4 linked regions of the Homo sapiens genome follow. The protein of the gene in region 3 interacts with the protein of the main gene of each other region in a biochemical or structural test. Each region holds a gene or a part of one and is shown on either strand. Other genes may lie near its edges.

Region 1 (7,806 bases), on a different chromosome or scaffold from region 3:
AATCAAGAATATAAGAAAGAACATAAGAAAATTTAAAAATTACTGATAATCTCACCACCCAGAGCTAATCATTTTGGGAATGGATCCCTCCAGGCTTTTTTCCATGCATGTGCTTTAGCACTTTTGGTATGTTTTGATTCTCAACTTGTTGGGATTAAAGTTTTTTAACTTTTAAAAGAAATTTCTTTTTTTACTGTCTTATGGTCAAGACATTTCTGTGTGTGTGTGTGTGTGTGTGTGTGTGTGTGTGTGTGTGTGTGTGTGCGTGCGCGCGCAGGGGGAGGGTGCTAAGTCTAAAATTGTATTCTATATCAAGTAAGAGGATTAAAATATGTAATCAAATTTTATTTAGTGTCCACGTCCTCTAAATCTTCACTTAAATCTTTGCCTACTTTATTAAAGACTTACAGATACGTTTTTTTTTCCCCACCACTATTAGGATGTCAATTTCTTCTTATGTTTTAGGCGTATTTAAAAATTATGTAGATACGAATACAGTTTTATTTTAAAAGATGCAAATGGTAAAGGAAAGATAAGGTCTTGCTCTCTGTACCCATGGATACCATAATGAACAGTTCTACTTATATCTTTGAAACTTCTTTTTTCTGTGTACTTATATATAAATATGATTGATTGATTGATTGATTGATTGAGACGGAGTCTTGCTCTGTCACCCAGGCTGGAGTGCAGTGGCGTGATCTCGTCTCACTGCAACCTCCGCCTCCTGGGTTCAAGCGATTCTCCTGCCTCAGCCTTCCAGGTAGCTGGGACTACAGGCTTGCGCCACCAGTGCCAGGCTAATTTTTTGTATTTTTAGTAGGGACGGGTTTTCACCCTGTTAGCCAGGATGGTCTCGATCCCCTGACCTCGTGATCCACCCATCTCGGCCTCCCAAATTGCTGGGATTACAGGTGTGAGCCACCGTGCCTGGCCAATACTTTTTAAAAAACATAAATGAAAATATGTTGCCGGATTGTTTTATAACCTGAATTTTAAAAAATTAATTCTACGTTTTGGAGATCTTTTCACATCAGTTCATATAGAATTTTATCATTTCTTTTTGCTTTGCATTGTGTTTTATTGTATTCTATACTGTGAATATATTGTAATTTAATGAATCGTTCCCTTACAGATGATGTTTATGCTGTTTCCATCTTTTTTAGGTTAGGCATTATAAACTGTGATAAAATTGTATCTGTTAAGACTTTACAGTATGGATAGCTCACCAACACGATAGGTGTATCTATGTCTTCATGCCTATTCAATACTCGATATTATCAACATTTTAAAATTTTGCTAATTTGAAGTTTTTAAAAAATAGTATCTAGATCTTTCACTTTGCATTTTCTTGAACGCTAGTGAGTTGAGTATATTTCATATGCTGACTGATTATTTTCTCCCTTGAATTGTCTTTCCCTTAGGTTGTTTGCTTTAAATCTTATTGTTCATATAAGTCCTTTTAATAATTTTGTCTCACGTATATTTTCAAGTATTTTTTTCAATCTACAGTTTGATTTTAAATTTATTTTGATGATTTTTTAATGTGGAGTTTTAAAGTGTTTAAGTGACCAAATATGTCCATTTTTATTTCTAACCTGGCCATGGCCATAAGCTTGGGAAGGCTTGTCCTACACTGAGATGAAAAGATTATTCTCCTCTGTTTTCTTCAAATATTTTATAGGTTTCCTTAGCTCTTTAATCCATACGGAATTTATTTTAAGGTATATCATAAAATATCTCAATTTACTTATTTCCAAAGAGATAGTCAATTTTCTCAACAAACCCATTACATATTTTATTGTAGATAAACAGTGGACAGCCACTGTTATCAGAGGTTAAATCTATGCGTATATACATAAGTGTATATATGTGTATGCATGCACATATACACAATTCTCATCCACTGATAATAATTGTCTGTTTTACTTCTGGTACTAACTCCTAGATATTTCTTATATAACTATGTTTAATGTCTTAGAGCAAATCTCTTCTTCTTGTTGCCTTTCAAAAATTTCTTAATTTTTTTTTCTCAAATAAACTGAAGTTTAAAAAGTCAAGTTTTATTAAAACCCCTGGGACTTTGTAGGAATGGCATGTGTAATTTATAGGTTAAGTACTAGAAACAACTAGTTTGATAAATCACTATTTAGGAAATCAAGGACGATAGCAGTAATTGGATATATGCCTGGAGTTGTAGCCCAGAAAGAGGCACATTAAATCTACTGGGTCAGGTATGTGTGTATGGTTATGCGGTGGGGCAGGGAAAGAAGGAAAGGAGCTGCAGGTTATAATAGAGATAATCATCATGGGACAGTGGAACAAATACGTTCATACCTGGCCTCCAAGTTGTCTAACATCTTTGAGCCTCAGCTTCTTCATCTCTAAGATAGGAATAATCACATTTTTGTAAGGATTAAATGAGATGATAAAGGTGCCCACAGATAATAGGTTCAGTAACTCCTAGTCCTCTTCTCTTCCCTTTTGATGAGGCATGAGTCATATTTGGTAACACGTGGTCCCTAAATAGCAGACCACATGGAAGTTTCCAAAGGCATTAGGCAACTGTTACTCATTTTCCTTTTCAATCTCTACTGAAAAGGTATGAAAGGCTCATCAGATACCAGCCACCATTGGGTAAGTACCCAAGGTTACTCTGAGTTAGTTGTACAGTAGGGACAAGCATTCATCGCCAAATAGAAATAGGCCTAAAGTTAAGTTTGTTACATTGTAAGTGCTCCAAAAACACTAGCCATCATTACAGCTCATAAATATTCAAATCCATTATTCCCACACTTAGGCATTTACTCTAAATAATGAGTAGCCTACAAAACAATCCAAAGGGAGGAAAATATTTTCTTTCTTTACATGAAGGATTTCACAGTAGTGTTATGCATACAGATTTTCATAGTAGTGTTATTTATAATATAAAGATTATAACTGGCTTAATTTTCCAATACAAGTGGAAAAGGTTTAGTAAATTACTATATACTCACTTGGGGGAATATTATACAGTCTTTAAAGCAAAAACTATGTTGCTATGTAGCCGCTTGAAAAATATTTATGCTATTATACTAACGATAAAAAGGCTGAGTATAAACTTATGTATATACTCTGATTATCACGTTGTAAAAATCTTTATGCAACTGGACCAGGACAGAAAGAGAACACAAATGACAAAAAATATAATGTATTGAGGAGAACTATTGAACTATTGTTCAATTAATGTTGAACAGCATTTTCTGGATTTAACTTTTTTGAAATCATTTTTTAGAAGCTCCAGACAGGGCAGTAAGTCTCAAATAAATAACAGAAAGTTCCTTGTGGAACTTTACCTAGGACTGAAAAACCAGCCCAACCAGTCAGCAGAAAACAAGATTGGCTTCCTAAGGAGAGTGTTTCCGGAAATAGAAAAGGCAGAATAGTTTATGGGGTATTTTCTAGTCATTTCACATCATCTGTGAAATGAGGATATTGCCTGGAGTTATTTGACCATATTTTATGAGAAACAACTAATTTGATGCTTTCGTACCACTTAAGAGGCCAAGGGGAAGGAGATACAAGTTGAGAAGGGAAAACTTACTCAATGCAGTAGTTCAAACTGAGGTGTCAGAAGGGATTGCTGATAAAGACATACTAAGTATTTGAGGGTCTGTGTATCCATTAATCATTGCTGCACAAACCAAGTGAGAGCTAGGAGAACCCAATACATACATCTCACAATATTACAGTGGCTTAATTCACTTTGAATTCAATTTCTTCTCTAGTGATCTAAAGTAGCTGAATACAGCAAACATCCATGAGTCAGAGGGATTGTACTCATAAGAGAAGTACCCCAATAGTGAAAAGAAAGAACTTATCTTCCCTCACCAGCAGGAGAAAAGAAAGACATTATTCTCCCTTCATTTTGCTATGCTCTGGAAAAACAAAAGTCACAAAACAGTTTTATTTATTCTAAATTTCTGGGGATAAATGATACATTTTATTTTAACAAAAATTGGACACCTCTTTCTGTTTTATCTAAGAATAATGATCCAAATCTCGTTACGTAAAGCTTGACAGCTTGACTTACTAGCTATTCTGAAACATATAAGCATTATCTGCCTAATAAAATAGAAATTCAAAGTACTAACGTCGTAAGGCTGCAAAACTATTATTGGGCTAATGGTCATGGTTGTTGTTATTAATCCTATTTGTGTTCATCGAAAACTTTTAACTACTCCACGCATAAGCAAGAACTCTTATGCAACTCACATGCCACCAGATCCAGTTATCCATTTCCACACAGTGAATAAAGGTTCACTAATTTCCTTCTTTTCAGAAAGAAACCCTTAATAATTCTACAAAGATCTTTCCCTCATAGAAGTATGAGGATGTGAAGACCATGAGTCATTTTACCAATATGGAAACAGAGGCCCAGAGAGCCCTGGGAATATAAACATATTCCCAAGACCACGGAGTCCCAGATGGGCTCCCACTGTGACTTGGCCCACAGGACAGAAGGAATGGAACCAGGAAAGCAGAGACCTGTGAAATGCACCTGCTGGCTCCTCCCCCTTGATCTGGACAGAGATGTGGGGTACCTGTTCACCATTCATTAGATGCTCGGGAAGCCTTGCTAATTAGATGAAAATAAAGGAAATGAAAAGCAGCCTGTTCTAGCATCTCCTATTCAGGTTTGGCTTTTTTGAAGCATGTAAAATTCTAACCCTGGGTGGAGTATTTTGCTTCTGCCCTGCACTTCTGTTATTCTTCAATTTAATCCAATTAGAGTAGAGCACATTCAATCTGGTTCAAGCCAACTTGACACAATCTTGCTAACTGTTTCTGTCACATGCTGTAGCAGATAAAAGACAAATGCCACTCTTCCTGGTCTTAAAGAATTTATATGTTTTTAAAAAAGTATCCTGGGTACACAGAATTGAATTAATCACAATCCTTGGTTCATGACACTGTCACACTATCGTCATTGAGCCATAGATGACCTTTGTTTAATTAATTTGCTTAATAACACATGGACACAACTACTGCCTAACCTAAGAACAATAGGGATAACCTGCTTCTTACCTTTCGGCTACACCCCTACCTCCTTATTTAGCCTCTCCCACTGTGCTATGACTTTGACTTTTGTATTTATAGTCACTCCTCTCCTTTTTGTTCTAGTTTTAGTACACACAAACGCACATCTAACAATAAACCTATATTGCTTGTTTTTGATGTTTTTGAATAGACTTTAGAGGAAGAATAAAACCTATTTATTCAACATATATTTAATGGGTTCCTTCTCTGTGCCAAGCATAGATGATATGAAATGACTGGAAAATACCCTATAAACTATGTTAGGTGCTAGAGAATAAAGACAGTAAAAACCAAACACGAATAAACAAGTAATAATTTCTGCCGTTATGGACAAATAATAAGCAAATAAACAAGTAAAAGGTTTAGTCTGTCCAATAGTGATAAGAGCTATGAATAAAACTAGGGCAGGGAAGGTGGGGGTTGGGGTTCTTGCTATAGTGATTAAGATGGTGAGGGAAGGGCATGGGAGCTGTGAGTGAATCGAATACAGCTGGACTTGAGGAGACAGGAATGGTCTCAAGCAGGTGGCTTGAGCCAGACCCCAAATGTTCCTTTAACTTTTACATTCCATGTAGAAATTAAAATATGTTCATTTTTTAAGGTCCATTAAATTGTATTCTCATATGTAATGCTTTGATCAAGCATTTACAAAAATATTTAGGGCCATTCCCTTGGAAAAGTATTGAATCTTAGGGCTAAAAGCAACTTGAAATAGAAACCAGTCAAAACCCTCTATTTTGTAGAAAGTAAAAATGAGATCTAAAAAGGTGAATTAAATTATATGTACATACATAAATATTACATATCATGGGAAAGGTACTCTTGTAGGTTAAATTATTTGTTCTAAACTAGAAAACTAATTGCCAATGAAGGTAGATAGTCTGGGCTTCTCTCGAGCTCATGGTGAAAATGTCTTCAGTACTGTCCATTATGATAAAAATCTTGGGGACCGACTTCTTAGGCTAAGCTCAATTCCTGAGAGAGAAAATTCAGTGCCAGAGATGTTGAGGATTTAGCTTAAAGTAGGAATCAGTCGTCCTTTTAGGTTGTCTGAAGGATGGAGAATAGAGAAACGACAGAGAGAGATGACTGCAGGGTCTTGCTGAGATGTCCCTTGCCCTCTCTGAAAGGACAAGCAACCAATTACAGGCACCAGGGGCCTGATCCTGCATCTATTGGAGTAGAAGAACACAGTGGGGTGGGTCCCACTACCTGAATTCAGCCACAGCCTCTTGAGTACCTGCTTTGCATGTTCTTTGCCTTCTTTTAACTACAGCTCCAACCTCTGGAGCCTCTGCTGCTTGAGCACCGGCCTGCCTGCTGAGCTTATCTTCCTCCTTGCCAGACGACCAGAGACCAGAGGTGAAGCTCCCATGTTCTTCCTCACCCATAAGCTGGCTGTACTCTGGGGGACCTAGGGTTCATTCTCATGGTACCCCCACCCCATCTGGAGTTTTCTGCTTTCATGCCTAAAGTACAAGTTTTGCATTTTGGGGAGTCCTTGGGGACCCAGAGAATCTCAAGAGCTTGATAGGATATTGGATGGGGCAGCAGAAAGTGTTGATCAAAAACCACTCGGATTGGTCAAGAGATCGAGACCATCCTGGCCAACATGGTGAAACCCTGTCTCTACTAAAAATACAAAAAATTAGCCGGGCGTGGTAGCGGGCACCTGTAGTCCCAGCTACTCAGGAGGCTGAGGCAGGAGAATGGCGTGAACCCCAGAGGCGGAGCTTGCAGTGAGCCGAGATCGTGACACTGCACTCCAGCCTGGGCAACAGAGCGAGACTCCGTCTCAGAAAAAAAAAACAACAAAAAACACTCAGATTGTAGGTAGGGTTGCCAAAAAGAATAACAGGGCCTAGTGAAATTTGGATTTCAGAGAAAAGTATGTCCCAAGTACTGCTATATAGTGAAAAAGTAATCACTATTGCTTGGAAATTCACATTGAACTGAGCATTCTGTATTTTTATTTGCTAAACTGAACAAGGTTATATTTGTGGGGGTGGGGTCAAGTTCATGGCAATTGCCAGACTTTGCCTCTGTTTGCGCGGTTTAAGATGGGGAAGTGGGAAAGAGAGAGAGAGAAGCAAAAGAAACACAATGATTCTTTAGAAGCAACATCCATTCATGGATCTCTCTCTCCACTTTTGATCCTTTATGTCTGAGGGCTGTGTGTGCCTGTGTGTGGCACACATACGTACCTCCCTGTGTGTTTTGTAGGACACAAGGATTGATATGGAGGAGAACTGTTGATAGTGACACTGATTAGATATTGAATAAACAACATGAGAAGATTAAAAACTGTAAAAATGTGATTAGTTTAAAATCAGCACAAATTACTACATTCATGTAAAACTGCCTCTCCTTCACACACAATTGCCACACAGCACAATCACAGTTACACTTGTTCCCAGTCAATCTTTATGTGTTTTCAGAGAATGATAAAATGTTACCAAAGGGGTCTAAGACATTGCCTAATCCAACCTCAACATTTACCGATTAAATAACTGAGACAGAGAAACTGACCAACCGCCGGTCCCACTGCACATCAATATTAATAATAGAAAAATGTTTTGTAAGAGCCTTCTAAGGCCTGGGCATTTTCGAAGTTCTCTACTTCACATTTAATTCTCACAATGACCCTATAGTCATCCTCTTTATTCAGGTGAGGCAAGTTGAGGCACAGAGAATTATGTAATTTACCTAACGCTCAGGGTCATGTAGCTA
Region 2 (8,064 bases), on a different chromosome or scaffold from region 3:
CAGGTTTAACTTGCACCTTCCCTGTTGGTTATCAGTGGAGCAGCATGTATTTAGTCAAACACTGGTGAGCTGTTGGCTGCTTTAAGGTAGAACCGAGCTGTTGTGGAAAATGCTGATGCTTATTTAGCAACTACAGTGTGTCTACGATAGAAGGTTGAGGACAGTAAAAAAAAAAAAATGGCTTTGGCCGGGTGCAGTGGCTCACGCCTATAATCCCAACACTTTGGGAGGCCGAGGCAAGTAGATCACGAGGTCAGGAGATGGAGACCATCCTGGCTAACAAGGTGAAACCCCCGTGTCTATTAAAAATACAAACAATTAGCCAGGCGTGGTGGCGGGTGCCTGTAGTCCCAGCTACTCGGCAGGCTGAGGCAGAATGGCGTGAACCCGAGAGGCGGAGCTTGCAGTGAGCCGAGATCGTGCCACTGCACTCCAGCCTGGGCAACAGAGCAAGACTACGTCTCAAAAAAAAAAAAAAAAAAGAAAAGAAAAAAATGGCTTTGAGGTTTTAGACTGAAGTATTAGAAATGAATTTTGAGAAAAAGATATAAAGTGGACATTTTCACTGGGTACTTTAAAGGAATATTTTATTAATTCAATTATGATATCGTTATTCTTTTGATTGAAAAGCAGCCAACGTCTTCTTACATAGTTAAGTCAAAACTCTTCATTTTAGTTTCAAAAAGTGTGGTATTAACAATGATCTTCAATGATTTCATCAGATATAAAAGAGAGCTGGCCGGGCACAGTGGCATACGCCTACCATCCCAGCACTTTGGGAGACCAAATCGCTTGAGGTCAGGGGTTCTAGACCAGCCTGGCCAACATGGTGAAACCCCGTTTCTATTAAAAATACAAAAATTACCTGGGCGTGGTGGTGGGCACCTGTAATTCCAGCTACTAGGGAGGCTGAGGCAGAAGAATCATTTGAACCCAGGAGGCGGAGGTCACAGTGAGCTGAAATCACACCACTGCACTCCATCCTGGGCGACAGAGCAAGACCCTGTCTCAAAAAATAAATAAATAAAATAAAAGCTAAAGAAAAAAAATCCCCTAAGACAGTTATTAAAAATTATGTGGTTGCTTCATGCCTGTAATCCCAGCACTTTGGGAGGCCAAGGGGGGAGCTTGAGCTCAGGAGTTCACGACTGGCCTAGGCAACATGTTGAAACCCTGTCTTTACCAAAAATACAAAAAATTAGCCGGGTATGGTAGTGCGTGACTACTCGGGAGGCTGAGGTGGGAGAATGGCCGGGAGATGGAGGTTGCAGTGAGCAGACACCACATCACTGCACTCCAGCCTGGGCAACAGAGTGAGACCTTGTCTCTAACAAAAACAAAAACACAACAAAACAAAACCAAACAAAACCTTTTATTCTTGTTACCTATCAAAAAAAAAAAAGAGGCTAATTACTTGATTTTCCTTCTTACAGGAATCCCGAGTTTTCCACAATTGCAATTTTTAAAGTTTAAAGTTATAACAAAGGAAGAAAACACTTAACTGGTCCAAATGAAGGTATTTGATTTTTGAGGGGGTAAAGGCTGAAAACATAATTGATTCTATTTTAACACTTCAAAGATAGACCAATCCCTGTCCTAAATTGAAAGGGAGCATGTTGAAGTAATGTATTAAGGAAAGGAAGTCTCTATTAAATAAAACCTTTTCCACCCTAAACATGTTTATAATACACACAGTCCAGTTGCTGTGGTGACCCATAGCCCAACTATTTTTCAGAGACAGTAGCTAAGACCCAAAAAAACACAAAGTCTCCAAATTTTCTTCAGCCTGCTACTTAAAAAACCAAGTTATGAATGTATCAAGCCTAGTTTCGAATCAAAATACTCACCGTTGTCAAAAAGTAACCAAAAGTAACATGACGTTTTTAACTACACAGGCTCCTAAAAAATACTCTTTGTATAGGATCCTGCACAGTTCTTACAATATTCTTACAATAAAACTTAAAGACACTACCTCACTAGGAATGAACAGATTCCACTTACGCAGTTTTAATGTTTAAGTAAAATCAAAGAGAAGAGTGTTCCTGAAGGGAAAATATTGAATCATACTACATTTTAATGAAAACACCGCTGCCAAACCTAAATATTGAAGCACCAAGTTTTCCAAGCCAGGGGGTGTAGGGGGTGGGAAAAGACGACAGAGGATCTGATCTATCAACCAAAGAGATGGACAAACCATTCTGATGAGGCATAGAACTCCAGAATCTTTATTTAAATTCCCCAAATTTCAAATAGCAATAGCTGGAGAAAAAGTGAAGTGTGTACTTTTGACTACTTCAGTCAACAACATCCCTATTTCCTTCCAAGGCCAGTTACTATCCCGCCCCGAAAGATGTTTCCAATTGATCTTCCCAGGAATGAAGTTACCAGCCTCGATGCAGCTGTGCACAAGGCGGAAAGTAAAGAGGGGCGGGGGGCCGCTGGAGCGAAAGAGAAAAAGAAATGAAACTCGACACCGGATGACTAGCGAGCTAGGGGAGAGGAAGAAACGCGGACGGCCGCGTGTGCCCTACAGGAGATCAAAGTCTGGGGGAAGAGGTGCAACCTCACCGGGCCTTGGTAAGCACTGAATTACTGTACTTTCATTTTCCAACTTCCTGTCACTACAGAAAATGAGAATTGCTCCCCTCCTCCCCATCCACGCCGAAAAAATCGCCGCCACCTTTCGCCCACGAGACTTCGGGGGACCAAGAGGCGACGAGAGCTGAGCGGTGCGCTGCGGCGTCCACCTGTGCGCCGCGGTGCCCGGCGGGCCGGGGGCGGACCCAAGGGGAGCGCGCGCGCCCGGCCCCGGCCCCCGCCCCCACTTCCTGTTGTGCCGCGCGCCCCTCGGCCCCCGCCCCCGCTCCCGGCCGGTGGGGCTGTGGCCGCGAGATCCCGAGGGGGCGCGCGGGGCTGACCGCTCACCGACGCCGCGCGCGGGGCTCCCCCTCGGTCTCCGCCTCGAACACGATGCGCCTCTCCGCCCTCAGCCTCCTCCTCACGCTGGAAACTCGAGGACGGCGCGGCAGCCGCTGCGACCCCCGCGGCGGAGCCGTAGAAGGCGGCGGCGGCCAAGCCGAGCCCGCCGGGTGCCCGCAGCCGCCCGCATCTCCCGCCGCCGCGGCTCCTGGCGCCCCGCCCTCCCCGCCCCCGCACGCGGCAGCGGCGGCGCGGGTCTTGGGGCCGCTACACGCCGGGCGCGCGCGTTCGGGGCGTTCCTTGCAGCGGCGGGGCCTGCCAGGCCCTCCGCGGCCGCCGCCACTCTCAAACCCCCCGACTGCTCCTGGGTCCCTCCCAGACGCCGTAGTCGCTACACGTCACTTCCGGGGGAGGGGCTGCGACCCTAAGGGGTGTCGTGAGCCGCGTCTGCCAGCAAACCCGGGTTTGGTGTGGCCGGGGGATGTAGCTCGGGCGCCTCCTGGAGTCGTCTCGCCGCTCTCCGTCGCGTTCGGTGCGGTTGCTTCCAGGTCCCTGAGGCGCCCGTCCGGAACCCGCCAGGACCCAAGCTGCCGCCTGGGCCGGGACCTCGGACTCCTCAAAGGCGCGCCACTTTCTCCTCGGTTGGAGGGAAGAGGTGGCGCTCGCAGAGCAACCTGCGGGGGACCACTTCTGTTGGTGCTAAGCTTTGGGGAGAGTCTCCTCCCTCCTGTGTCCCTCGTCCTCCTTACCACTCGCTGTTAGAAGTTGGGGCCGTCACAGCTTTCTCATCGAAGTGCCAGATCCCAGGACACTACAAACGCTTGATAAATACTAAATTAGCACTGTGGCTTTCTAGCCTGGGGACTGACAAATGGAAGCGCTGGAGTCGTGGGAAAAGCTTGCCCTGACGATGGAGGCAGCGACCAGAAATCCATTCGTGGCTCTACCCCTCACTAACTCACCAATTTTAAGCAACCTTAACCTCTCTAAAACAGTCATCATTTATAAGGTGGAGAGAACCCAATCTTAGAGTTGTTGTAATGATTAAAGAAAATAAGGTGCATGAAACACCTAGCAAGAGTTTCTAGCTTAGAGGTTCTCATTAAGTAAAATTCTTAAGGAATCAGGTCACACTTGATACAAGAGGCTACTTGAGCAGTTTAGCACCAGAAGGAATGTAAAGTCATAAATTAGGACAGCTGAACAAAACCTCCAAGAAATAAATTAGGTGTTTGTTTAACAAGAAACCAAAGAGAGGTCAGTGTCTGAGTTACTGGTTATTCGAGGCCATTTACTAGCTGTGTGACCTGTAGTGAGTTGCTTAACCTTTCTGGACCTCAGTTTCCTCATGTAAAATGACGATAATGAGCAGCATTGCTGAGAGGATTAAATGAAGTATAGAGCATAATGTACTTAGTGCATTACCTAGCACATAGTAGATACCCAGTAAATCGTGGTGTCATTTATTTTTGCCCCCACAATTGAATGTATAGTTAATTGAACTCACTGAGTGAAATGTGATTCTGTCATCCTTTTGTAGGCTTTTGGAAGAGAATCATCACTTCCTTGATTTCCAGCCTCCTCTTCCATAATACAGAGTAATTATAATCCACAAAGGTAGCTATTCCTGTAAAAACAACTCTACCAAAAGATGTTACCTTTCCAAAATTAGTTTTACCAAAGCATGCAAACATATTAAGACATGTTTTATAAGGAACATGCAGTATCTGAAAAGCACTAGCAGTCTTGGCCCCTAACATAAAATTTTCCTTGCAACAAGTTCCATCTTGGAAACCAAGAAAAAAAAAAGTATTAAGGTAGGCTGTTTAGGATACACCTATTGGAAACATTTGTTTATAAAAAGATTTCATTTTAAAGCCCCCTACCAAGAACAGTTAAGGGTTGTGGAGATCTGCACACTACGCTGCTCTGTTCAAACTGGCAGTAAACATCTGATTCGGCCTTAGGGCCAGTAGTTGTGTCATATCCCTTTTAGACTGAGCTTACGGCATTGTCAATTGCAGTGTATTTTTGGAAAACAGCCTGCTTTGGGAGTTCTTAAATTAGTCATAGCAAATCTGTCTGCTTTTAAATTGACTTTTTTTTAAGGCGGTACATATTGACAGAAGAGAAAGGAAGAAAAGTGGATTTCTAATTAGAGAACTTGAGGGGAAAAGTTAATTAATGTGCCTGGTTTTCCCACTCAAGATTCTATAAATACACAATCTCTCTCCATGGTTCCTCACACAACAGATGGTTCTGTTTGTGCAAACTCCATGGTAGTTACGTTGGTCAACCAAAAAGACTGCTTTTTCGTTATCTTGTTTGGTCACTTTCCCACCAGATAGATGGATTCCTGATCTTAGCCTTAGTTACTCAGAGCCATCCCAAAGAAAATTTGTAGATTTTATTACAATGTTTATTTATTTTTTTGAGACAGAGTTTCGCTCTTCTTGCCCAGGCTGGAGTGCAATGGCGCAATCTCGGCTCACCGCAACCTCCGCCTCCCGGGTTCAAGCGAGCCTCCTTCCTCAGCCTCCCAAGTAGGTGGGATTACAGGCATGCGCCACCATGCCCGGCTAAATTTTTTTGTATTTTTAGTAGAAATGGAGTTTCTCCGTGTTGGTCAGGCTGGTCTCGAACTCCTGACCTCAGGTGATCCGCCCGCCTCGGCCTCCCAAAGTGCTGGGATTACAGGCGTGACCCATCACGCCTGGCTTAAAATGTTTAAATATGTATTTTCTACCTGGCCTGCCCTAGATTTTGTTTTTTGTTTTTTGTTTTTTGTTTTTTTTTTTGAGACAGAATCTCACACAGTCACCCATGCTAGAGTTACAGTGGCACAATCTCGGCTCACTGCAACCTCCGCTTCCCGGGTTCAAGCGATTCTTCTGCCTCAGCCTCCTGAGTAGCTGGGACTATAAGTGTGCACCACCACGCCCAGCTAATTTTGGTATTTTTAGTAGAGACGGGGTTTCACCGTGTTGGCCAGGCTGGTCTCAAACTCCTAACCTCGTGATCCGCCTGCCTTGGCCTCCCAAAGTGTTGGGATTACAGATGTGAGCCACCGGGCCTGGCCTAGATTTTTTTTCTTAATCACTGCAGTTAACTCAGCTCTGCAACCCCTTGCCCCTAATTTAATTACATTTCCTATCCCAATAACACCTAGTTATGATCATTACTTCTCAAGGCAACTTCCTCTTCCCTCTCTTTATTTCACTGCTTCATCATTACTCCCAGTCACTATCCCTTTTTCCTAAAGAAGTGTTTCACGGATTTTTGACTGACTAAGCAAGCATGGAGCCATCCAGTTGCCTGTTACGTCTTTCAAGCAATATCCTGTAGCACGTGACATTAAGAAGAGATATCTTTTAAGTCAAAGACAGCACCCACAACCCCAGGTGGGGACAAGTGTGGAGCAAATTGCAACATGACTGAGAAGAAAGAATAAAAATCTGGGATATCTGGGTTCTAGCCTTTGGGTCTCCCTAAACTCAAAACTTGAACCTCCTGAGAAAATCCTTGCGACTTACCCTTTCTGGGTTTCACTTTCAACATCTTTAGAAATAAAAGAGACATACCTTTCACTTCATGTCTGTAATGGATAGACTAAAAGAAAAAGGCAGTAGGCTGGTTGTGGTGGCTCACACCTGTAATCCCAGCACTTTGGGGGGCTGAGGCAGGTAGATCACCTGAGGTCAGGAGTTCAAGACCAGCCTGGCCAACATGGTGAAACCCCATCTCTGTTAAAATACCAAAAAAATTAGCCAGGTGTGGTGGCAGGCACCTGTAATCCCAGCTACTCAGGAGGCTGAGGCAGGAGAATGGCTTGAACCCGGGAGGTGAGGGTTTCAGTGAGCTGATACCGTGCCACTGCACTCCAGCCTGGGTGACAGGAGCGAAACTGCGTCTCAAAAAAAAAAAAAAAAAAAAAGCGGTTGATCAAATGATGCTTTGAACTCTTGGTAAATAGCCCTATTGCTGTTATATTTGTGTGGACTGAGATCTTAGATAGAGGTAAAGTTATCTTTGAAAAGAAAACTCTGGCTAGCTGTATATTGAATCTGGCAGCACTGGCAACCCCTACTACCTGTTAAGGTCCTAAACTTTACCAAATATAACCAGTAAACGTTTCATCCCCAATAATAAGGCTTTTAATCAGAGGGTATTAAGGGTCCGGAGAAAACCCAATCTGAAGGTCATTGAACAAGGTACTTGTGGCCTCTAGACTGTGAAGTAAACTCATGGCAACATCTTTCAGGACTAGCTGTAATCTCCACACAATACATTGTTTTTTCAGAGAGGACATGACGAGACATGAGTTATTGCAATTACCGCCTGAGGCATAGCAACTGTCTAATATGTTTGATGACCTGTCACAAACACAGGTCAGAAAATAGCTTCATATAATTTTCATTCTTGATCTCTACACCCAGTCTACTTATTTTCTTTTAATATTTTTAACCTCAAGTAATTTTATTGGTCTTTGATAAATGTATTATTTCTAGACTTATAAAAATTGATATGGAATATGTAATAGAGAAAGAAGAGAGAATATATCAATTTTTTTTTGAGACAAAATCTCACTCTGTCACCCAGGCTGGAGTGCAGTGATGGGATCTCGACTTACTGCAACCTCTGCCTGCCGGGTTCAAGCGATTCTCCTGCCTCAGGCACCTGAGTAGCTGGGATTACAGGCGTGTGCCACCATGCCTTGCTAATCTTTGTGTATTTAGTAGAGACGGGGTTTCGCCATGTTGGCCAGGCTGGTCTCAAACTCCTGACCTCAGGTGATCTGCCCACCTTGACCTCCCAAAGTGTTGGGATTACAGGCGTGAGCCACCTTTGGAAAAGGTGTTCCTTAATTGATAAAAGCTCATGAAATCTGCCTTTTGTATAATTGTTTAAGATTCTGGTGTTTGGACCAGCTCCTTGCAGAATACATATTGCTCTGAATTTTAAGCCAAAATAATTTTTCCTCTCTGGTGTATTTTATAATCACTGTCTGGAAAAAAAACTTCTTCAATTAAAGTTAATTAAGGAAGCACCAATATATGATACTATGCTGTTATTACAGAAGAAACTCAAAGAGCATTTGCTCTTCTAGGAATTCTGAGTCTTGAATTGGCAACACTGACACCCTCA
Region 3 (7,806 bases):
TTAGGAGTTTGCCTCGCGTTCATACCCCCATCCCTCCCTAAGTAGAAAAACAGAACCAAAGACCCCACAGTCTGTGCACAAAAATGATACATTTATTGAAAGAGTATTTTTTTTTAATACAAAAGAAAGCTCTGTACATAGGACTGTGACCATGTCCACTATTCCTGGGTCAGCATCCCAGGGGAAGTAGAAACCACTGACATACACACTCACATTCAAGCACACACACTCACTCAGGCGCACACACCCACACACACATACCCCAGAGCCACCGAGGAAGGGAAACACCAAGGGTCGCTGCACATAAAAATATCACCTCAACTCATCCCTGACACACGCATGTCCTCCCAAGGCCACGCTCACACAACACACATTATAAGCACTTTGCCTGATTCACTCACTGGGTCTGTCTTTTGTGGGAAGGAGAGGAAGAATTCATCAAAGGTCTCCTCCCCATGGGTGGGGGAGTGGGGAGTGAGTGAGTGATGGTGGAGTGAAACAAGAGCAGAGAAAAGGGGCTGGGCAGTTACAGACCTGAGTCCCAAGCTCCCCTGCTCTCTGGCCCCTGATTTGCCATGCCCCAGCCTTGAAAGCCACCCATAAGCCCCAGCTATCTCCAGGAGAAAGCCCAGAAAGGTGACTTCCATCTTGGCACCCCAAACTGGGGCAAGACAGCAATGAGGGTTAGAGGTTAGGGGGTTCTCAAACATGTCGGCAAATCATCCCCTTGATAACTAGGCTGTGCATAAAATCTTCCCCCATCCCTTCACCTAATCACAGAAGCCAGCTTGTTCCTACTGAAGGCAGTCTTAGGGGTTAAGAAAATTTCACCCCACTGCTGCCCTGTTTCTGAAAAAGCTCCCCTTCTGGATATAGGTGGTGAAGGTAGGCTCTGACACAGGGTAAAAGACCCTCCCCCCTATGCTGGCCCACCCTCAAGGTCTACCCCAAAGGGGGAGGAGGGGGGTGGGGCATGGCCCCTGTACAAATTACATAAATACTGAGGTTACACTTAGAAAAATAAAGTCATTTTCTTCAAGGCTTTTTGTCTTAATTTAAAAAAGTTACAGTAGCTGCTCACTCCCTGGGAGAACTGCCCATTTCTGGCTCCCCTTTGGCTGCACTCAGCCCAAGAAGCTGCTCCCACTTCTTCTGACCCCCATTCCTGCCTCTCACCCCCTCCCAGACCCCACCCTGCTCACTGCAACTTGGGCCCCAGGCAGCTGCATGCCTGGGACAGCGCAAGGCTGCAATGCCCATGCGTGTGGCACAAATGAAGTCAGTTGCCTCTGCCTGACGCCCTCCCACCCCAACCCCGACATTTGGTCTCCCTCTTCCCTCTCCCTAGCAACAGCCCTAAAGGGCAAAAAGAGGCCCAGAGCTGTGGGTCACCCTCCCCACCCCGTTGGGGAATGGCCTGAGGGCCCCTCCCCCGGCTTTCTCCTGGAAACAACCCAGGACTGGGCAAACCCAGAATCTCCCCCACACACTGGTGGACCCCGAGCTCATGGGGTGGCTCTGTCCCCAGGGGCCCAGCCAGTTCTGGGGAGCCTGAGGGCTCCCCAGGGAAGGGGAGTTTGGGCAGGGAGGGGGACGAGAAAAACGCCATAAAAAAAAGTTAAATATTTTAAAAATATATATTTATAGATTTGTTTTCACTTCGTCTCCTCAAATAAAAAGTTCAAAATCAACTTTAAGTAAAGCAGCTGGGAGGAGAGGGGGGAAGACAAGGGGGAGAAGGGAACGCTGGTGGTTCCCTCCAACCCAGGAGCCCCTGGAGGTCCAAGGGGAGCGGCAAGGCAGGGCAGGCGGCCCCAGGAACCTGCCCAGTGCACAGGCCCAGCTACTCAGGAGCTGAAGGGGGAGAGGACAGCAGTGTGAGGAAGAAGCCCCCATCTCCCCAGCTGGCCCCCTGAGGGGCAGAGCCAGGGCTCTTTTGACCCAGCCTGTGACAGACACAGGGCTGACCTGGGGTCAGCAAGGAGGCTGGCAAGAGGGCCCCAACTGCTTCCTCAGAGGAGGACACGGTGCCCAGCCCCACAGAAGGCCTGTGTGTGGGGAGGTGGGGCACGGTCCCATTGGGTAAGCTAATACTCATGGCAAACATCGAGCCAAGCTGGCGAGGGGGTCCCAGGAAGGAGGACAGCCCCTCCAGCAACAGAAATGGGAGGTGGGGCGGGAAGAAGGGGAGGCTGAGGGAGGACGGGTGGAGGCAGGCAGGCCCATTTCTTTGGCTGGAGTGAGAGGGCTCAGTCCTGTGGCTGCCCGTTCCTCCTCCCCGCCTCCCTCCTGCGGCCCGTCAACGTGTGTGTAAAGAAAACGTGAAAAGGCAACAATAAATAAGTGGTGCCATCCCTTGGGCCATCTGTCCAGGGCGGCGGGCGGATCATTCACTCTTGGTGCTGTGGGCGGTGTCCAGGTTCACCACCTGTAGCTCGGTGAGGTTGCTGCTGCTCCCGGCCTGCTGCCCTATCACAGCCATCTGGAGGGAAGGGGATGTATGAGGAGGGGCAGGGACTGGCCAGCCAGTTCAGGCTCCCCTGGCTTCCCTGCCTGCCAACCACAGGCCTGAGCAGAAAAGCAGATGGGCTTCCAGGCTAGGGATTTTGGCTTTGATGAACTGGTAACAGGATCCCCTAAGGTCAAGACAAAGAAGTGGCTATCTGGGATGGGGTGAAAGATATCCCTACCTACCTGGTGGAGCTGAACTGCTGAAACAGGGATCTGCACTGTCCCAGATGATGCTGTCAGGAACACCTGGGGGACGCCACCTACATTGGAAAACCACAGGAGATACTCAAATTGTTTGTTGAAACTTCCAGATATTGGAGGAGTGGTGTCAAATGCACAAGTGACTGGGGCAGTCTCAGATGTAAGAGCCCAAGGGAAAGGGTGCCAGTGTGTCTGAGGGTGCATGCGGGTGTGAGTGTCCAAGTGGGGTGTCCAAATGTGTGTGTGAGCATCCAAGTCTGTGTTGTATTTGGGTAGAAATATTTGTAGGCATCAGTGCATATGTGTGTGTATGTGTGTGTGTGTGTGTGTATAAAGAAGGAAACGGTCCTCCTTTCCTTAGCCCTGCTCCTCTACTCACCTGGCTCCTGGACCTGGCTGTGTGACACCTGCATGGTGGATGGTGCCTGGGAGAAGGCATTCAGCACGGTGAGGCTGCCATCACCCAGGCCCGAGGTGGGGGCATACATCACCGCATGCGGGCTAGGGTACATCATGTGGCCACCCACAGTTGTGGGCACGGATGACGTCATGATGGTGGCGGGCAGCGTCACTGGCAAACACAGACATGTGTCAGCTCGGCACTGGTCCCCACTGATAACTCCCATTCCGTCCCTAGGAATTCCAGGCCCCCAGAGCCCTCTTGCCATTTCCCAGGTCAGAAGCTAGACACGACTATTCCTCAGCTCCATCATCAACTAAGAAAAGCCTATTTTTTCTTGAACACAACAGCATCAATCTTTAATTGTATCCTATCACATTGTACTATTTATTCAATTGTCTATCTACTGAATTCTCTAAGTCCTAAATCTTGGGAAAAACAAAGATTATGACTGACCTACTCTCAGAAAACTCAGATACTCCCCTTTTAGGAGCTCTAACATCTTATTTTTTATTTGTTCTCATTCTCCCTCCTTTTTTTTTTTTTTTTTGAGATGGAGTCTCACTCTGTCACCCAGGCTGGGGTGCAGTGGCGCGATCTTGGCTCACTGCAAGCTCCGCCTCCTGGGCTCATGCCATTCTCCTGCCTCAGCCTCCCGAGTAGCTGGGACTACAGATGCCTGCCATCAAGCCCGGCTAATTTTTTGAATTTTTAGTAGAGATGGAGTTTCACCGTGTTAGCCAGGATGATCTCAATCTCCTGACCTCGTGATCTGCCCCCCTCGGCCTCCCAAAGCGCTGGGATTACAGACGTGAGCCACCGCACCCGGCCTCTCTCTCCTTCTTAATGCACAGCTAACAAATTCATCTTTCAAACAAGCACTTCTCAAATGTTAACGTGCATTATATGGGAATCTTGTTAAAACACAGACTCTGGGCCGGGTGCGGTGGCTCAGGCCTGTAATCCCAGCACTTTGAGAGGCCGAGGTGGGCGGATCACGAGGTCAGGAGATCGAGACCATCCTGGCTAACAAGGTGAAACCCCGTCTCTACTAAAAATACAAAAAAATTAGCCAGGTGTGGTGGCGGGCACCTGTAGTCCCAGCTACTCGGGAGGCTGAGGCAGGAGAATAGCGTGAACCCGGGAGGCAGAGCTTGCAGTGAGCCGAGATGGTGCCACTGCACTCCAGCCTGGGCGACAGAGAGCGAGACTCCGTCTCAAAAAAAAAAAAAAAAACAGACTCCGATTCACTAGGTTTGGGGTGAGACTCAAGATTCTGTATTTCCAACAAGCTCCCAGGTAATGCTGGTGTTCCCAGTCCATAGGCCACACTTTGAGTAAAAAGGTTATAAATAATAAGAACTTAAAATTAACCTTACTTTGAGAGTATCTCATCATTTCTGAAATGTCTAGAGATACCTGAGGGTAACTGTGGCTACTCAAAACCTGTAAGACCCTCGCACAAAGAGAAAATTGCTCTCTAAGTCCTTCCTGATAATTAAGCAAATGTGTCTTTGAGCAAGTAACTTCTTATTTCTAGGCCTCAGGCTCCTCATCTGAATGAGGAGGTAGGTCAATGGTCCCCAATTTTCTTCTGGAATCCGCAGCCCACTGCAGGGCGGGATTCAAAACCCAGTCATCCTCACCTGACTTCCCCATAATTATTAGGCCCAAAGCCTCAATCTCCACTTTAAGAAATCCCCTGACTTTAGTTACAGGAGGGTTACTGTTGGGCACCTACTGCTAGGCCTCGTGGGGGAAGGCAGGGAGGGAGGGTGACAGGGCTGCGAGCTATACCTGTCCCGCTGGAGGAGGTCTGCGTGAGGTCTGTGCTGCTGTCACGGGAGGGAGACGCTTGCTGTGGGGCCTGGTGCACTTGAATGGCCTGCACTGGGACCTGCTGGGCCACTGCCCCACCTGCAAGACACAGAGTCTTATTTGTGCTCTGTCCCACCCAATTGCCACCTCCACCAAGTACCCATGGACACCCCAGTCCCAGGGTCTGGCACACTGGTCTCCAACTCCCATCACTATCTTTCCTGGAAGCCAAAGAGGCCCTTCAGGCCCAAGTATCCACTCTGGGGGCTTCCACGCTCTACTCTTGCCCATCCCTCCTCCTCCTGCCCTGGGCCTTGTCTCTCTTTTCTTCAGTTGACCCAAGAGCTGGCAATAACCCATCAAAGACATGATCTGCCTTCCAGTCAAGGCAGGAAGTGGTGAAACATCTACTGCCCTGTGGCAATGAGGGCACGGGGCTGGGGTAGCTAGACAGGGCCAGAATATATGGTTGAAACTTACTGACAAGGACAGCAGGGGTCTCAGTGGGCAGAGGTATGCCTGCCAACGGGATATAAGAGGCTTCGCTCAGGCTCTGGCCCCTATTCACCTTCCTTCTGAGCAGGGAAAGAGGTTCTCTTGGTGCCAGCCCTAAACACACTCTTAGCATGCTTGATTTGCCCCAGGAAGGACGAATCTCTCCCTGCCCCTCGTGACTCACCAGGCATGAGGGTGAAGCTGGTAGGCAGCTGCATAAGGCCCCCAGAGGAGACAGGGCCGCTGCCTGTACTCTTCAGCACAGTCCCATTGGCACTGCTGACAGCACTGGGGCTGACACTAGCAGACACTGGTGCCAGGTAGTTGGTGATGGGAAAGGAGGGGCCGCTGCTGACTTGCATGGTGGTAGAGGTGCTAGGTGCTGTTTGGATGGTGGAGGTTGTACCCGGCAGGTTGGTGACTGTGAACGCCGGCTTCAGTGTGTCCTATACCCAGAGTAAAGATGAAGCAATGAGCCCCTACCAGATCCTGCCTTTGCAGAAGCTTTGTGTGGACTGAGAACCCAGACTGAAACCAGTGAGCTTGGGTTCAAATCCCAACGCCACCATTTACCTGATGCCTGACTCTTAGGTAAGTTATTGATCTACTGAGCTACAGTTTTCTATCGGTAAAAGGAGGATAATACCTACCCCCTAGGTTGCTGTAAGGATTAAGTAGGTTAGCATATGTAAATCACTTAGAAAACACTACCTGGCACATAAAAAAACCAAAATAAATATTTGCTGCTCTTATGATAATTATTATCATTGTCATTATTATAATCCCCTGAGTTCTCTGCTCCAGCGGACTGTGGTAATCCCATTGGCTGGGGAGTCAGGACACCAAGGTCTGTTCCTAGCTCTGGTAATGACCATCTAAGTGACCCTGAAATAACCAGTCCCCTTTTCTGAACCTCGGTTTTCCTCTTCTATAAGCATGAGGGGGCTGGGCTACTACGTTTTCTTTCAAAGAGTTCTTCCAGCTCTAATTTGTCAGGCTTCTGAGATAGGAACTGAGTTTCTCAGGGAACTTAAGAGTTTGAGAGAGATCTTGAGAATCTGGCAATGACACACTATATGTCAAACACCCAAGATGTAAACTACCAAAAGAATGTACTCATCCAACAAAATTTCCTGGGAATAAATGAGCCCTACTGTTATAAAAGTTTAAAAATTATTACAGATGATATGCCACTAAGAGAGGAGGTAGCCTACAGCACTGACTCTCCCCTAAGGAAGACTTCGTTCTTAGAAGGGGAAGAAGGAAACTGAGAACCAAGCCACCAAGCCCAGACCCGAAATGAGTCAACCAGAGGCTCAAAGGCTGCGGGGTGGGTCAGCACGAGACGTTTGCAAAGCAGCTGGGCCCAAGACCCTTGATTGGCAGAGGCGTTGCTAAGGCAAACAGTGCCGCTTCCTCCCATTGGCCAGTCAGTTAAGTGCCACCCGGAAGGTGGAGCTCCCCAGACAGCAAGGGAGGAAGCCCCACCCCCTCTCCTTACCGGGAAAAGGAAGGGGGAGGAGTAACAGCGCAGGCATCCCTAGCAGCAGGCAAATGCGCTCCCTAACTGCCCAGGCCCCCAACACCCTGAAAGGGCAGCGGCTGGCTTGTAAGGTAGTCCCCGGCCCAGTCAACCAGCCCGCCTGCCAAGAGTGCTGGATTCCCAGGACCCCGGGACCGGAGTGCTCCCTTTCTACTCCCTGGCGACCCAGCCCGGAGGGCCGGGCTAAACTACACCCCCGCCCCTAGCGGGGAGACAGCTGGCGGGAGGAATGCAAAGGCCCTGCCAGGCAGGCGGGCTGCGGGCGGGAGGCCGGCGTGGAGCCCAAGCCGGCCTTATATGGGCACGGAGGCCGCCCGCTTATCTAGGGGGGCGGTCTTCTATCAGGAAAGTGAGGATGGACACCTGTCCCCTAGGACGAGGGTCGTTAATCCGGCTCCACTCCACATCGGTGGGCACCTATCCACCTGTCCTGGGCCAGAAAGGGAGAGGGACCCCACTCCCTTCCCTCCTCTCACATAGGCAACCCAAACACACCTTGGTCTCCCCACTGCTGTCAGACTCCGACACCTGGTAGGTGAGATCTGTCTCTTCAAAGCCAGTGGCACTCATTCTCTGGTCTGTTGTGGGGTCTGAACGGGGTGGAGAGTCTGGCGAGTTGAGGCAGGTCTGAATCAGTGCCTTGCCGGTCTCACTGGTGATCATGGGCTGCAGTTTTCGGGTGGCAAAGGTATACACATGGCCTGTCTCACTGGCCACCAGCAACAGCACCTGTGTCCCTGTCAGCGTGGACAGCTCATAGGCCTGAGGGGTGAGGAGGGAGATGGGCAGGTCAGCAAACTTTTTATCTCTACCTTCCTTGAGAAGTTGGAAAAAGAAT
Region 4 (5,614 bases), on a different chromosome or scaffold from region 3:
TCCCTTGGGAGCAGTGAGGGCAGCCACTCCCCATCCCCTGAGCCAGCCTCACTGTCCCTGGGGCCCCACATGACTGGACAGACTTCATTGGTTTCAAGGTTTTCATGGCTAATTTCTGTAAGGAAACACACACAAGGGGATGTGCCACATTCCTAAAAGTGCTCATGGTTTCTTGCTGACAGGTTCAGTTCCCTTCTCAGAAGGCAAACGTTAGCACCAAAGGGCTTCTGTCCTTTGCTTTTATCACCCTCAGCATGTGGCCCAGTTAAGACTAACACCCCCTCCTCCCACCCAGTTCTGCTTGTACTTTGACGAGGGGCCCTTATGGTCTGAAGCCTCTTCCACCAGGAGAGTGCAGCAGACACCTGTCGCATGGGGCCTCTTGTGCTGTGCCGTAAGGGCCACATGGGTGTGGGCAGGTTGGATGACCCAAGAACACGAGCCTCAGAGGTGAACAAAAGACACTGGTGTGTGGTGCTAGTCTAGAAGCAGCGGCAACTGGGGAGCCTCAATGCCAGGCCAACCCCCTGCCTCTGCCCACGGCATCCCTGCATGTTCCCCCTAACTGAAGTGCATGGGCCCAAATGGGCAGCTTCCTTAGTGAGCCACATCCACAAGAAGGAGCGAGGGTGTCATTCAGCTGGCAGGTGGAGGCAGCCGCAGTTGAGATGGTCACGTTCAACCTGGACCCCAGGCTCCAGAGGGCACAAGGGGAAAGGCACACCGAGGAAGCACCCAACAAACAGGGACCAAGATGGCTTCTCAGTGCCATGCTTCATCAGGGATTCCCTCCCTAATCCCCTGGCCAAATCAAACCAATTCATCGTTTTCTTTCTTTTTCAGGGATGTGAAAATCTGGGAAATACTATTTTAGGTCAGAGTGGTTTCTGTTTGTTTTTAATTATTTATTTATCAATCAAGTGTGGTTTTTACAGGTTTGTTTATAATTCCTATGTTCTGTGCGCCTGCACTAAAGTGAGTATATCCTGGAAGGAAAATAAGTCATTTAGGTTTCTGGATTAGGAGTATCACCTTATAGCGATTCCACCAGGCAGAATGAAAAGACAGGAGGCAGGTTATTCATATGCTGCTTTATTTCTGTAAGGATACACTGAAACGTTAGATGATAATAGCTAATGACAGAATGTAGAAATGAGGCATCAGCTTCTCTAACCACTCCTACAAGAATGTTAGTATGTATTGTCATTACATGTTTACTTTTGATATTGTCTCATTATACTATGTCATATAATAATGTAGAATACAGTAAGTAGGTGATCCTGCATTTCAGGTAAGCGGTAGGTGGAAATCCAGATTTCCTCTTGAGGAAAAGTCCTAGGAATCACAACAGAAGGGACTTTGCAGTCCTCATTAACACATGGACAAAGAGCAGACAACTACTACGTTACAAGGGATTCAACTAGTCACTGTTGTGAAATGTCATATCCATGTTGATGACAGCCCTGGCGCCTGCTCAACTCCCCCTCTAGAGTTTTGCGGTTACTTCCGTAGGATGAATTTCAGCACTGCAGGAACATCTGAGGGGGCTAAAATATTTTCATGCAAGTTTCCAAACCCATAAACTATTTTGCTATCAATTAAAACAAAAATATTAATTAAAAACAATAAAAAGGACAGCAGGGTTAGTTTTGTTAAGCTTCCAGAAGTATTCGTTGTGACGATGTTCCTCTGAAACAGGCTCGTTTTCTCAGGTCTTTCTACACTTCCCAAATCACCTGCATGTTCCATGCTTTAAAGTAGGAACGCTCAGAAAACATGCCACACGGGGAAACCAAACGTTAGTACGGGGAAAGGTCAGTTTAGAATTACAGCTAAGTTCAAATGTTAATTTTCTGGAAGTTCGTGTTAGTTATTTGAAAGCACAAAAGAACAGAAGGAAGGGCAGAGTTCTGATGAGGAAGTTAAACCATGCATGTCAGTAGGGTTCTTTTCCTGCTCACAGAAGAGGGTGAGCAGTGAGTTGGAGCAGCCGCTGCAACTCTTGCATGTCGTGTGTCTACACGGTGGGTCCCAGCTGAGGCATGAGAGGCATCTCAGTGGGGGTTTTATCTCCTATGCTTCTTGCTTACATCACTAAGTGGCTAAATGATTAGCACTTTTCTGCTCTATGAGAAACATGCAGAAGAGTCAATCTACCTAAGTTTTCATTTTTAAATTGCAGCCGGACAGAAATTCACTTTGCTGCAGGGTTGCTTTTTGCTAAATGCTAATATGATCACTGTGTGCCCTTATTTGAGTAATACTGTAAAATGGGAGAAAAGACGGAAGGAGAACTTTAAAGAAGGGAAGGACCACTCTTCCCCTATTGATGGTATAGGGCAGAAAGTAAGGACACAAAGAACGAGATTCAAATGCCATTTTACAGGACAGGAGCCCCTGTCAGTTTACAGCTTTTTGGCACAGTCGGGACAATACACTTGCTCCTGGTGGAAAACAAAGCGCTTGTTGGCCAGATTCACGGAGCATTTTTTGCAGTGGAAGCAGTAGTCGTGCCAGGATTGTCCTTCATAGGCCACCACACTGGAGCCTTTACCAAACCCTGGGGGGAAAAAAAAAGAAAAGAAAAGAAAACAAGAGAAACAGCTGAATGAATACAGGTGAGGAAACCACGATTCAGAGAGATAAAATGACGACCTGCCCCACTCACAGACCGACAAGCACGCAAGAGCCAGGTCTGCCTGGCTCCCAGACCCCCTCCTCCACTCCATCGTGCACAGTCCCCCACGCCGCCATTGTCCCCCATGCCGCCGCAACCCTGCTGTGGCTCTCAAGGACCTGAGAAGATGCTGAAGCCCGGCCAAGGGCTTCCCTGATGTAAAGACCCCACGTTCCCATGCCACCACGCTATTGCCCTGTGACGCGCACCGACCTCCCAGCATAACCAGTTTCTTTGATTTAGGTCAGGGCCATGACATCAAAGTGGCCACCAGGAGGCAAACTTGGGCTGTTCGTGGGGTGTGCACTTACCGGGCCTCGAGGAGCTGCTAAGCTTCGATTTTTTCTATAAAGAACCACCACCCACGAGGGACAAGTCCTCTCTCCACCCGGATGCCTGCCCCGGAGGTTGGCGCTGGGAAACAGGGTGAGAGGCAAGCGTTTCCCGTGGCACACTGGGGGCTTCCTAGCTTTAGAGACTGGGTGGCTCACTCTTGACACAGTCCTTTTCCCTGAGGATGGCAAAAGTCTTCTCAAATGTACATTTCAAGGCTCCCCGGGAAGATGGGAAAATTGGAGGCAAGGGAAAGGGCCCAGGGCACGTGGATCGCGGCCGCGAGATGAGGAATGAAGTGATTAGCTTTGCTGATCGCAAAAACAAATAAACAGCAAACCAAAAAAAAAAGAAACCCTGCCAACAGGCATCTCTGAACTAGCCTTCAGCTATGGGGTATTACAATCCCGGGTTATCACTCTTCGGCCTCCCTTACCCCTTCCCCACCCTCCCCCACCCCCTTCTTTCTACCCTCCTCCCACCCCTCCCCCCAGAATCCCCCTGCAAAGTGGCAGTGCCTGCCGGTGTTGGCTGGCAGGTCTCAGGCTTGTGAACTCTCAGCATTGTTAGTCAACAGTCAGGAAGTGTTCTGTATTGCAAAGGCTAACCTGGCCTGGGGACGAATCCAAACTCTTGGGGGGCCTTTGGGACCACAATAGCAGGGGGAGAAGGGCATTCTCTGGGGGCCTTTGTGGATGAAACCGACGACAGGAAAATGAGAGATGGTTACCATGCGCAAAACCTAGCCTGGCAGACTTAGCAAGGACTCTTTAGCCTACCAGTGATGGGGTTCTTGCATCCAGCACACTTCTTGGCCACAAAGTTCTTGTAGCAATCCACGCAGTAATACTGGTCCTCCACAGCGGTGAAACGCTGCCCAGCCAGCTTCTTAGAGCAGGTAACACACACAAAGCAATCGGCATGCCAGGGCTGATCCTGGTAAGTGATTCCTCCAGATGTGATGGCCTAGACCAGGGAGTGTAGCACCGGATTCAGATTCAACAACCATTTTGTTGAATGCCTACTGCGTGCCAGGCACTGTGCTGGGCGCTTTGGTATACAATATCTCATTTAATCTCCACAACAGCCATGGGAGGCAGGGGCTATTATTATCCCCACTTTACAGATGAAGACACCAAGGCTCGGAGAAGGTGAGCCCCTATGTGAGGTTACACAGCCCCTAAGTGGTGGAGGCAGGCTTCTAGAGCCAGGGCTGCCCAGCTCAGCATGCCATACGGGCCACCCGCACCACCAGGCTGAGGATGCGTACTGACAGCCTGACTTGGCTGTGGCACTGCTTCCTAATCCACGATCTCCTCATCTGTAAAACGGGAATAATAATTCCTACGTCACAGGGCTGTCGTGAGGATGGAATGGGATAGTGTGTGTGGAAGTGCTCTGCAAACTGTCAAACACTTCTAGAAACAACGGTCAATGCAGAACTCCCTTGAAAGCATACCTTGTTGCACTTCACGCAATGCTTGGCAAACTTGGTCTCATGGCAAGTCACGCAGTAGAAGTCCTCCCCTTTAGGGAAGAAGCTTCCAGTCCCGATGACTTGCTTGCAGTTACTACAGGTGAAGCAGTCTTTGTGCCAGACGGTCCCCTTGTACTCCACGTTTTGATCTCCTGCAGAGGGAAGCAATTGGATAGCCCCACTGACAGGCTCTGCAGGGGGCTGCATCCACTCAGCTCCCCTCCCCAGGCCCTCCAGAGGTGAGGGGATGCAGGCCCTGCAGTTACTGGCCTCACACCTCCAACTAACCTACCTGTGTTCTACTTGTGCTTGTGCCAACCCAGGATTTCTGTCATGGGTGGGGACCCCAGCATTATTATTTTAGGATCCAGTGCCTGAATCCCCCACTCCCCCACCTCTATACCCTGCGTGCACTTAGACATTAAATCAGGGACTGCCTGGCCCAGAATGACACCCTGAGGAAGAAGCATGCTTTCATCACTTACTACGCCCAAATGAGAAAGCGCTACATACTGTTCACTTCATTCTGTTGCCACAGGCTGTTCTCGCCAGTGTTCTTTAGTCTCCGAGTGTGTGCGTGTGTGCGAGCATATATGTGTACGCATATATACGTGTATGTATATGTGTACATATATATGCTAAGATCTCAAAGCAGCTCAGAGCAACGTTAGCCCCACCATGATAAGCAAGCCCACATCACGTCTGCCCTCAGGGCCTCCTCCCTGGGAACCCGGGGTGGGAAGGAGGCAGTACCTGCCACAATGGCCTTGAAGCACCCCTTGCACTTGGGGGAGTCCTCCCGAGTGGTGCACTTGTTGCACAGGATCTTGTTGTCCTTGGCCACAAAGGTCTCATTGGCCAAGGGGTGAAGGCACTTGGCACAGCGGAAGCAGGTGTCATGCCAGAAGCGGTTCTTATAGTGCACCTCCTGGAAACCAAGCAGACAGGGTGGGCCACCATGAGGGGTGCTGGGGGTGGTGGCAGGAGCCCTCCCATAAGGCTGATTTCCCTGGGACTGACCACTGAGATGACACAGTCCCTTACACCTGGGACTGCCCCACAGTGACTATTCTTATAGGAGGGACGCTGAGGTGAGGATAAAAATCTCACAATTCTTGAAATATTTA

Evidence for each region.
Region 1: the proteins of SRF (region 3) and MYOCD form a complex in vitro, tested with the Homo sapiens proteins (one study listed by BioGRID).
Region 2: the proteins of SRF (region 3) and ELK4 are reported together in a solved structure, tested with the Homo sapiens proteins (one study listed by BioGRID).
Region 4: the proteins of SRF (region 3) and FHL1 form a complex in vitro, tested with the Homo sapiens proteins (one study listed by BioGRID).

Annotation. Positions count from the first base shown.
Region 1 is NC_000017.11:12,668,704-12,676,509, reverse strand, and holds part of MYOCD (myocardin), read right to left. Parts: intron 4,649-7,806; exon of another isoform or gene 4,319-4,648; intron 1-4,318. UniProt on the Homo sapiens protein: Smooth muscle cells (SM) and cardiac muscle cells-specific transcriptional factor which uses the canonical single or multiple CArG boxes DNA sequence. Acts as a cofactor of serum response factor (SRF) with the potential to modulate SRF-target genes.
Region 2 is NC_000001.11:205,628,707-205,636,770, forward strand, and holds the start of ELK4 (ETS domain-containing protein Elk-4), read right to left. Parts: upstream 3,306-8,064; 5' UTR 2,926-3,305; intron 1-2,925. UniProt on the Homo sapiens protein: Involved in both transcriptional activation and repression. Interaction with SIRT7 leads to recruitment and stabilization of SIRT7 at promoters, followed by deacetylation of histone H3 at 'Lys-18' (H3K18Ac) and subsequent transcription repression.
Region 3 is NC_000006.12:43,173,771-43,181,576, reverse strand, and holds the end of SRF (serum response factor), read right to left. Parts: intron 7,731-7,806; coding exon 7,464-7,730; intron 5,872-7,463; coding exon 5,610-5,871; intron 5,030-5,609; coding exon 4,910-5,029; intron 3,284-4,909; coding exon 3,092-3,283; intron 2,772-3,091; coding exon 2,695-2,771; intron 2,483-2,694; coding exon 2,387-2,482; 3' UTR 71-2,386; downstream 1-70. UniProt on the Homo sapiens protein: SRF is a transcription factor that binds to the serum response element (SRE), a short sequence of dyad symmetry located 300 bp to the 5' of the site of transcription initiation of some genes (such as FOS).
Region 4 is NC_000023.11:136,206,817-136,212,430, reverse strand, and holds the end of FHL1 (four and a half LIM domains protein 1), read right to left. Parts: intron 5,416-5,614; coding exon 5,241-5,415; intron 4,640-5,240; coding exon 4,470-4,639; intron 3,977-4,469; coding exon 3,790-3,976; intron 3,189-3,789; coding exon of another isoform or gene 2,989-3,188; intron 2,561-2,988; coding exon 2,406-2,560; 3' UTR 1,077-2,405; downstream 1-1,076.